Linked DNA regions of Homo sapiens: region 1 is linked to region 2. The links come from fine-mapping of genetic effects on gene expression. A gene starts in region 2. The other region holds a variant in brackets. All regions are shown on one strand. Distances are between the middles of the regions. Region 1 overlaps MROH1 (maestro heat like repeat family member 1). Region 2 holds the start of HGH1 (HGH1 cochaperone).

The links. PIP is the estimated chance that this variant, and not a neighbour inherited with it, causes the effect. A credible set is the group of variants that fine-mapping cannot tell apart.
Region 1: its variant is the best candidate, but not a certain one, in a credible set for the expression of HGH1 in lung (TOPMed, PIP 0.83).

What each region holds. Positions count from the first base shown.
Region 1 is chr8:144,237,544-144,242,735 of GRCh38, forward strand. MROH1 (maestro heat like repeat family member 1) reads left to right here. Exons shown (of 44, transcript NM_032450.3): 15 at 1,213-1,320; 16 at 1,492-1,636; 17 at 1,780-1,820; 18 at 2,071-2,212; 19 at 2,558-2,610; 20 at 3,027-3,134; 21 at 3,449-3,568; 22 at 3,852-3,974; 23 at 4,826-4,972; 24 at 5,059-5,085. Among named protein-coding and RNA genes, the nearest start is that of MIR7112, 23 kb to the right of the region's middle. The variant A/G (reference allele first, on the strand shown) is at 2,744.
Region 2 is chr8:144,134,530-144,139,721 of GRCh38, forward strand. It overlaps HGH1 (HGH1 cochaperone), which reads left to right and starts at 3,245. Exons shown (of 6, transcript NM_016458.4): 1 at 3,245-3,899; 2 at 3,978-4,078; 3 at 4,186-4,284; 4 at 4,480-4,571; 5 at 4,660-4,782; 6 at 4,859-5,192. The coding sequence starts at 3,307. The coding sequence ends at 5,023. RefSeq lists an enhancer at 2,843-2,892 and silencers at 3,083-3,542, 3,553-3,782, 3,823-3,942.

The sequences.
Region 1 (5,192 bases), 100 kb after region 2:
GTTATCCGAAGGCTAGCACTGCTGTCTTCACATCTTTTAGCTTTTTCTTCTTCCATTCTTTTTAAATTTCTTCTTCCTTGAAGTCTTCGGCAGCCTGTTCTTCCAAGTTAGTAATTTCTTCCTCAGTGAATCGTTACATTATTCGTTTCCTGAATTGAATTCTTTATTTCACGGTTATACTTTTTCACACCCTGTCGCTGGGATTTTCCTTGTTCTTGGCTCCTCATTTCCCCGTTGTGGTTCCTTGTTTCCCTGTTGCGGTACTTTTGGTGCATTTTTTCGCACAGGCATTGTCCCCAGTCTGTGTCCTAACGTTCGTGTTTCTGGTGGAGTATGTCCTCACTGTTCGTTATCAGGTATTTTGCAGTTTCTATTTGGTTTCTTTATTAACGCAAATGATTCTTTTATGATCTTTAAAATCTCCAGGTCGATAGGTTTTCATGGGTGTTGTGGATTTATTGTTATATTGAATCTGGCCAGGTTGATTTCTGCTTTTAAGTGTTGGTTGCAATATTATTTTTGGCCTAATGGTCAGGATTTCAAAGTGTATGTTTGGTATGAAGTTCTATCTATATTTTTAGTGCCTACTGTAAAAATTGAAGTTCAAGGCCTAAATATCACTGTTTTTTTTTTTTTTTCTGTGTGACTTTCAGCTTCTGAAAGAGAGGGATTAGAAGTCCCTGCAGTGTTGCCATTTTTCCAAATATGCCGCTTTGTGGTTGAGCTTTTACTTTTTGGTATTTCAAAACCTGAATGGAACGTGTGGGAAACAGAAGTCGTCTGCTTACAGGGACGCCTTCTGGGGAGCTGAGCGTACAGAGAGGACAGCAGACATCCAGCCCACCGTGGCTGCCGAGGCTGGGTGGCGTCCTGGTGGGAACCAGGTTTTCTGACATGGGTAACGTTCCCACAGAGGCTATCCTGTTCCTCCCCTGCAGGCATTGCAACCTCACGAGCAGTGATTTTTTATGGAGTCAGTAGCTTAGCAAATGCTCAAGGTTTTGTTTGTTTTGAAGATGAGAACTGAGGCAGGTAAGCCTGCTTTCTTGGGTGATCTTAGCGGAGAGTGCCTTTCCTGTCTGTGGCAGGTGGTGCACATGTCTGCGTGACCTGCGGCGAGGCTCAGGGTCTGCCCCGCTTCCGGGCAGGCTGTGTCCTCAGGCCCAGAGCCATGGCCGCCCACGCACGCCTTTGCCTTTTGCCTTCCTCCAGCCTGAGAAGCCAGGCCCCGGCAGCAAGGACCCCAAGGCCGACAGCGTGCGGGCCATCAGCGTGCGCACCCTCTACCTGGTCAGCACCACCGTGGACAGGATGAGTCACGTGAGTGCACGGCACCCGTCCCTGCCTGGCGACAACAGAGCTCTCCAGGGCAGTGGCCCAGGGTGCTCAGGCCCAGCAAAGGGTCTGTCTCCACCTTGGAGCTCCGGCAGGGCCCTGTCTGCATGGGACCGCCCTCTGGGCGGATGCAGACCAGGCCCTCTGCTCCCCTAGGTCCTCTGGCCATACCTGCTCCAGTTCCTCACCCCTGTGCGCTTCACTGGGGCCCTGACTCCGCTCTGCAGGAGCCTCGTGCATCTGGCGCAGAAGAGGCAGGAGGCCGGGGCCGACGCCTTCCTCATCCAGTACGACGCCCATGGTGCGTGCCGCGCCGTACCCCACCTCCCCACTCCTGCCCCCACTTCCCCACTCCTGCCCCCACTTCCCCATCCTCCAGTTCCTGACACCCGCCCCAGGGCTACAGGCAGCCCCCCACTGACTATTTCCACCTCTCATCTCCAGCGAGCCTCCCGTCTCCCTATGCTGTAACCGGAAGACTGTTGGTGAGCCTCGCCCTTTCACAGCGTGCCCAGCGCCCCACTCTGTGTCCCTGTGCTCCACCCAGGCTTGGAAGGGGTTACCTTCTCAGTGGGCAGCCGCGGTCAGGGCTCAGGTGTGGTTTTCCTCTACGTGGGCGGCCCAGCTTTGGGAAGAGCCAGGCTCCCCGTCGGGTGATGTGGTCCTGCAGGTGCAGGTTGTGGGCATGACCAGTGCTCCCTGCTCAGACCCGGCTCCCACGCTGCCTCTTTTCAGGTTGTGTCTTCCAGCCCCTACCTAGGGGACGGACGTGGGGCAGCGGCGCTGCGCCTCCTCAGTGTTCTGCACCCAAACATTCACCCTTTGCTGGGTCAGCATTGGGAAACGACTGTCCCGCTGCTGCTGGGGTACCTGGATGGTGAGGCCAGGGTCAGGATGGGGTGCATAGCCCTGTGGGGAGGGCAGGTCTCAGAGTAGGAGGGTGCTAGCTCTGACCCCACCTTTGCCAAGTGGCACTAGGGTGGCCAATGGGGACTAGGGTTGTATAATTGGAAAATACAGTCTCCCCTGTTGTCCAAGAAAGGCCCCAGATGACCTGGGGCTTGAAAGGCACTCCCGCTGGGTGCTTCCTGGGAGCAGGTGGGGGGCAGCGGGGCGGCGGGGCCTGTCTGTGCTGAGCATCCCCAGCTCCAGGGCAGGTGCTGGGCTCTGAGCCCCACTGGTGCGTTTTGGGATGGGCTGGCCTGCGCGGCTGTCGTTTCAGAGCACACAGAAGAGACCCTGCCACAGGAGGAGTGGGAGGAGAAGCTGTTGATGGTGAGGGCCGGGGTACGGCCCATCCTGGGCCTTAAGGTGTTGTCTGGCCTGGGGGGTGCTGGGGTGGCAGAGGCTGGGCCACCTGCCTCGACCTCACCTCGTGGTTTGGCTGGGGAGCCAAGGATCAGGCAGC[A/G]TCAAGGCTGAAGACCCCAGCAGCCTTGCAGCGGGGGCCTTGCTGTGACAAGGCACCGGCCCTCTAGCAGTCGCAGCCCCAAGCGTCGGGGGCAACCTCTCACCCTGCCTGGTGAGCCAACTGTGGCATGGCTGTCCCCTGAGGGTTGGCTCTGCCGCCCCCGGCCTCCGCTGGAAGGCGGTCTGCAGCCCCTGCAGCCACAGCACATGGGGATGTGCCCAGGCTCCAGCCAGCCCTGTGAGGGGTCGGGCTCCCAGCCCCTCAGTGGCATCTTGGCCTGCAGTTCCTGCGAGACACCCTGGCCATCATTTCTGACAACGCGTGGATCTGCCAGCTGAGCCTGGAGCTGTGCAGGCAGCTGCCCTGCTACGATGAGGCACCCCAGGAGAAGGTGGGGCACCTGCTGGCGTTCTTGGTGTGGTACTTGGGCTCCGAGTTTCTGGGTCTCGTGTCTGTCACTTGCTGTCTGGGCCCTGTCTCCCGTGGCCCTGGTGGCCTGGCAGAGCCTCCTTGTGGTGGCTGAGGGCCAGGAGTGCGAGAGCCCACCGGCCCCACCGCTTATTCCTCAGATGTTGCCCCAGACTCACCCTGCAGTTCTCATCAGCTTGTGGGCAGGAGGTGCACCCCAGGGGCAGCCCCATGGCAGCGCTGGGTCTCCCTGTACTCAGGAGTCAGGCAGAGCCGTGTTCTCTGGTTTTGTTTCAGAACTTCCTGTACAAATGCATAGGCACCACCCTGGGTGCTGCTTCAAGTAAGGAGGTGGTGAGGAAGCACCTTCAAGAGCTGCTGGAGACGGCCAGATACCAGGAGGAGGCAGAACGCGAGGTGGGGCCGCTTTCCCTGCAGAAGCCCCAGACACCCCAGGGCTGGAGGACGGTGGCACCTGCTGTTCTCTGAGGCAGCTGGCTAGCCTGTGTGCCTGTGTGTGCGTGTGTGCATACACAGGTGGTGTGCGTATATGCAGAGAGGGTGTGTGCATGTGTTGATGTGTGTGCAAGTGTGCGCATGTGTGTACATGTGGGTGTGCCCGTGTCCACACGTGACAGTGTGCGTGCATGTGTGGCAGTGCGTGCTCTTCCCTGCCCGGGGTAAGTGTGCTGCCCCCCAGGGCCTCGCCTGCTGCTTCGGGATCTGTGCCATCTCCCACCTCGAGGACACGCTGGCCCAGCTGGAGGACTTCGTGAGGTCAGAGGTCTTCAGAAAATCCATTGGCATTCTCAACATTTTTAAGGTTAGGGTGACACCGGTGCAGGGCTGGGGACGGCTGTCTATCCACAAGTTTGAGGCTCAGGGGGTGCCCTGCGGGCTGGAGTGGGGCAGGAAGCTGGTTGCGTCCCTGGACCAATTTTTGCTCCTGCATTCCTTCCATGGGCAGGACCTGTGCGTGGGTGCTCCCAGTGGGGAGGGCGGCAGAATGGCCTCCCGGAGGCAAACGTAGCTGTGGCCAGGGCCACGTCTCTGCCAGGTGTGGGTGATGAGAGGGGTTCGCGGCTGGGGCAGGCCTCTGCCCCCTGGTGGCTGGCAGATTCTGCGTTCTTGCCAAACCACCAGCTGTGCTGGCGGAGCCTAAGCCTGGTTTAAGGAAGGAGTGGGCCCCTGCTGCAGGCCCCCAACCCGGCTGTGGTCCCTCTATTTCCTGTCTCCCGTAACTGTCCCAGTTACAGCATCTCAGGGCTGGACCAAGCATGCAGGGCTTCCCAGCCCTTGCTGTGCGGATGGAGGCTGATCTGCAGCGAGCAAGGGTGGGGCCTTGAGCTCTTCTCAGCTGCCTCCTGCCTGACTCTCTCACGTGGCTGTGCTGCCTTGACCCTCGGCCCTCTGCTACCTCGGCCCTTGGCCCTCTGTTACTCGGTACCCAGTGGGCCCATGCCTGGCTGGCTGCCTGTGCTCCTGCCCCTTGCAAAGAGGCTCTCCCCATCCCCAGATTCAGGTGGTGCCGTGCACGGCTGGGTCACACCTCTGCTGTCACTGACTGGCTCTGGCCCTTCTTCTGGGAGGATTTCAGGAGTTTCTGAGCCGAGGATTCCCGTCGGGGAGTGTAATTGTGTAACTGAAGTCCCGCTGGTTCCTCTGGCCTCTCAGGATCGAAGTGAGAACGAAGTGGAGAAGGTGAAGAGTGCTCTGATCCTGTGCTATGGGCACGTGGCGGCCCGGGCCCCCCGGGAGCTGGTGCTGGCCAAGGTAGAGTCAGACATCCTCCGGAACATCTGCCAGCACTTCAGCACCAAGGTGGGCACTGCGGTGGGCCTGCCACGCAGGGGAGCTGGGGCTGCCGGGGAGTCACGTCTTAACTCATTTCACTTTTTGTTGTTCAGGTTCTAGGAATAAAGGTAGAAACCAAGGTACAGTGTGTAGGAATTAAGTGCTGGACTGGCTTCTCTCCTCTCGGCTCTCCTCTGGGCGGGTTGAGCTTCATAGGCAGAGGCCGGAGGGGGAGCTTGGAGCTTGC
Region 2 (5,192 bases):
CATTTTTTGGAGGGACACTGTTCGGTCCATAGCACCCACTAACAGTCACTCCTACTCCCCTTACCCTACCCTTCCCTTGACAACTGCTAATTTACTTTCTGTCTCTATGAACTGACTATTCCGGACGTGTCTTATAAATGGGATCATAAAATATGTGATCTCTTGTGATTTCTTTCTTTCATTTAGCGTAAGATTTTGGAGTTCATATGTGTTGCAGCATATGTCAGTACTTTGCTCCTTTTTATGGCTGAATAATATCCCTTTGCATGGATTTATCTGTTTATTTTTCCATTCGTCAGTTGACAGACATTTGGGTTGTTTCCACCTTTTGACCACTATGAATAATGCTGCTTGTACACGTTCACGTTTCTGTGTGGTTTTCAGTTTTCATTTCTCTTGACTAGATGCCTGGGAGTGGAATTGCTGGGTTATATGATAACTCTGTTTGCGTTTTTTTGATTTTTTTTTTTTTTTGAGATGGAGTCTGGCTCTGTCATCCAGGCTGGAGTGCAGTGGCACCGTCTTGGCTCACTGCAACCTCTGCCTCCTGGGGTCAAGTGAGTCTCCTGCCTTAGCTTCCTGAGTAGCTGGGATTACAGGCGCGTGCCATCGTGCCTGGCTAATTTTTGTATTTTTAGTAGAGATGGGGTTTCATCATGCTGGTCACTCTGGTCTCGAACTCCTAACCTTGTGATCGACCAGCCTCAGCTTCCCAAAGTGCTGGGGTTATAGGCGCGAGCCACCATGCCCAGCAAATGTCTGACTTTTTGAGGAGCTGACAAAATGTTTTCCACAGTGGCGGCTCCATTTTACAGTCTCACCAGCAGTGTATGTGGGTTCCAATTTCTCCACATCCTCATCAACAGTTGTTTAATCTGTGTTTTTGGCCGGGTGCAGTGGCTCACGCCTGTAATCCCAGCACTTTGGGAGGCCAAGGTGGGTGGATCATCTGAGGTCAGGAGTTCAAGACCAGCCTGACCAACATGGAGAAACCCCGTCTCTACTAAAACTACAAAAAAAAATTAGCCAGGCGTGGTGGTGCATGCCTATAATCCCAGCTACTCGGGAGGCTGAGGCAGGAGAATTGCTTGAACCTGGGAGTGGAGGTTCCAGTGAGCTGAGATCGTGCCATTGAACTCCAGCCTGGGCAACAAGAGCAAAACTCCATCTCAAAAAAAAAAAGAAATTCTGTGTTTTTGATCATAGCCATCCTAGTGGGTTTTGCACCAATAATGTCTGCTACACCCTACTTTGCAAAACCATTATGACTATATATATGAACACTATGCAAGGTTTGCTCTCAGGGAAGCTTTGGAAAGGACCCGTCCAAGCAAGGCACCATGAAGCTTAAATTTTATTACCTTCCTTTAAGTACTGTTTTCTTTTTTTTTTTTTTGAGACAGTCTCACTCTGTCACCCAGGATGGAGTGCAGTGGCACAATCTCCACTCACTACAACCTCCCCCTACCAGGTTCAAGCAATTCTCCTGCCTCAGCTTCCCAAGTAGCTAGGACTACAGGCACACGCCACCATGCCCGGCTAATTTTTATATTTTTAGTAGAAATGGGTTTCACCATGTTGGCCAGGCTGGTCTTGAACTCCTGGCCTCAAGTGATCCACATGCCTTGGCCTCCCAGAGTGCTGAGATTGCAGGTGTGAGCCACCGCACCCGGCCTAATTTACTGTTATTTATTTTATTTTTGAGATGGAGTCTCCCTCTGTTGCCCAGGCTGGGGTGCAGTGGCGCTATCTTGGCTCAATGCAACTTCTTCCTCCCAGGTTCAAGCAATTCTCCTGCTTCAGCCTCTCGAGTAGGCGGGACTAGAGGAGTGTGCCACCACCCCCGGTTACCTTTTGTATTTTTTTTAGTAGAGAGGGGTTTCACCATGTTGGCCAGGCTGGTCTCAAACTGCTGACCTCAGGTGATCTACCTGCCTTGGCCTCCCAAAACGCTGGGATTATAGGCATGAGCTACCACACCTGGCCTAAGTACTGCTATCTTGAAGGAGGCAGACAGAAACCAAGCAGTCATGGGTGGCGGGTGGGCTGAGTCTCTGTAAGTTGCCCAGGGAAGATAGCTCTGACAAATAATTAGAAGTTGCCAGCCTTGTGTACAGCTGAGAAAAGAGCATTCCAGGCAGAAGAGACAGCAAGTGCAAAGACCCTGAGGCCAGAATGGCCACCAAAGTTGTTTGGTTCCGTGTCCTGAGCTACCAGCTTGGCAGATGGCTGGTGCCCAAAAAATGCTGGAGTGAGGGAATGCCCTTCTTTTGCCCTCCCTTCCTCCCAGTCTGTGTGTCTCTAGAAGGTTGCTGCTCCGCCCACAGTGGAGGACACGTGAAGAACTGGAGTCCTTTTCTGGGGCAGACTCCAATACTGGGACAGAGAAACTCTTCTGCCACGACCATGGAACTGGGAGGTCCCAGTGTCTTTCTTTCCCAACTGCTCTGAGAAAATCGGCCAGTGGCAGGTGGAAATGATATGGAGCCACAGAGCAGCAGGGCAGCAGAGAGGGAGAGCAATGGTAGGGTAGACAGTACAAGGCTCCAGAGAGCTCCTGGATAAAGCAGTGCCGGAAGCTGGCTCCCTCCAAACCTCCATTTACAAATTTTCTCTTCGTGCAAGTCAGTTTGAGTTGGGTTTGTCACTTGCGACTGAAGACGTCCTGACAAATGCCCCAAAGCTACCAGCTCAGAGATGCCCAGAGGCCTCTCCAAAGCTGCCTCCTCAGGTCCCCACTGGGGCCCTGTGTTGTCCTGTCCCTGGACGGCCTGAGCTTCTCGGTGGCCGTGCCAGCCTGGACAAGAGCAGGCCTTCCTTCCGAGAGGCCCGTGGCCACTCCCCCATTCAGCCCTTCTCTGACCCGACAGCCTAGTCGAGGAGCCGGGGCGCGGGCCTCAGACCCTCAGGGCCCACGAGAAGCCAGGGCCGGCTGACCAGGTTCGGCGTGGCCAGCGCCCAGTGGGAAGCACTGGCCGACCTAGCCGAGACTACATGGACGCTTCCAGCGAGTGTGGACGCGGCAGGCGGCCAAATCGCGCCGGGCCTCGGTCCCCATGGCTCGGGACATCACAGCGCTCAGTCTCCAACCTCCGCAGCTTCCGGCCAGACGCCGAGACCCATAACTCCCCGCGCGCGGCCTGGCCCCTCCCCTCCGCACGCCGGTCCCGCCCCTTGAGCCCAGTGCGCAGCCTCGGATTGGCCAGGGCGGCTTTCGCTCCTCTGGTGGGCGGGGTTGCGGGCCACACAGCGGACCCCTAAGCGGACCGCTGGCACCGGTCGGGTGGCAGCAGAGTGTCGCTCGACATGGGGGAGGCCGGGGCTGGCGCTGGCGCCTCGGGAGGGCCGGAGGCAAGCCCGGAGGCAGAGGTGGTGAAGCTGCTGCCCTTCCTGGCGCCGGGCGCGCGGGCGGACCTGCAGGCGGCGGCGGTGCGGCACGTGCTGGCGCTGACTGGCTGCGGACCCGGCCGCGCGCTGTTGGCGGGGCAGGCGGCGCTGCTGCAGGCGCTGATGGAGCTGGCGCCGGCCTCTGCCCCGGCCCGGGACGCCGCCCGCGCGCTCGTGAACTTGGCCGCCGACCCCGGCCTGCACGAGACATTGCTGGCGGCCGACCCCGGGCTGCCAGCGCGCCTGATGGGCCGCGCGTTGGACCCGCAGTGGCCCTGGGCCGAGGAGGCGGCCGCCGCGCTAGCCAACCTCAGTCGCGAGCCGGCGCCGTGTGCAGCGCTCATGGCGGCGCTGGCGGCCGCGGAGCCGGCAGACTCGGGCCTGGAGCGGCTGGTGCGCGCGCTGTGCACGCCCGGCTACAACGCCCGCGCGCCCCTGCACTACCTAGCGCCGCTGCTCTCCAACCTCAGCCAACGCCCTGCGGCGCGGGCCTTCCTACTGGACCCCGACAGGTGAAGCCCAGGGCGCCCGCGCGGGCGGGGAGGGGACGGAAGTTAGGGGGGACGGCCCTAAGTGACACCTCCCAACAGGTGCGTGGTCCAGCGGCTGCTGCCCCTTACCCAGTACCCCGACTCCTCTGTACGCAGGGGCGGGGTGGTGGGGACGCTGCGGAATTGCTGCTTCGAGCACCGTGAGTGGTGGGTGTGGCGGGGGTGCGTTGCCAGGTGTGGGGACTGGACTCCGGGGCTGCTCTGGACCAGTTTCCATTCCCGTCTCCCCACCCTCACCATCCCTCAGGACATCACGAGTGGTTGCTTGGACCTGAGGTGGACATTCTCCCCTTTTTGCTCCTGCCCTTGGCTGGGCCTGAGGATTTCTCCGAGGAAGAGATGGAACGTGAGTGGCTAGTGTGGAGCCTCAGAGTTGGCCGGAGAGGAGGGAGGCCAGTGGAGGGAGAGAGAGGTGTCCAGGCCACAGGCTCCTGAAACTTTGCAGCAGTGAGTTGCTGAGCACAGGTGGGACTTACACAGGCAGAGCCTGGCTCAGCTGCCCAGCCCAGGGACACAGTGGCTCCCACACACTCACCCCTAGGGCTGCCTGTCGACTTGCAGTACCTGCCACCAGACAAGCAGCGAGAACCTGATGCAGACATCCGCAAGATGCTTGTTGAAGCCATCATGCTGGTGAGCAGGAGCCCTGCTGCAATAAGCACCACCCCAACACACACACATGAGCATGCTGACATCTGGGTAACCTCTTCCACCTCCTCAGCTGACAGCCACAGCACCAGGTCGGCAGCAGGTGCGGGACCAGGGAGCCTACCTGATCCTTCGAGAGCTGCACAGCTGGGAGCCGGAGCCCGACGTGCGGACGGCTTGTGAGAAGCTCATCCAGGTTGGTGCAGGGTTGGAGAGGCTGGGGAAGGGGTGTCTGTAGCTGGCCAGCTGCTCACCTGCTTCCCGTCTGGCAGGTGCTTATTGGGGACGAGCCTGAACGTGGCATGGAAAACCTGCTGGAGGTGCAGGTGCCTGAGGATGTGGAGCAGCAGCTGCAGCAGCTGGATTGCAGGGAGCAGGAGCAGTTGGAGCGGGAGCTGGCCCCAGAGCCATGGGTGGAGAGGGCCACACCCACCTGAGGCCCCTGCAGCCGGACACCAGCTCCAGGGTCCCCTTTGCCAGGCTTTCTCAGACCAGGCCTTCCTGCAGCTGTCTGCAGGCCCCCTGGGTCCCCTTGTTCAGAGACTGTGCTCTTCTGAGAAGCAGAGCTACGCTTAGGCTCCAGTAAGGATTGGAGGCACTTTCCAG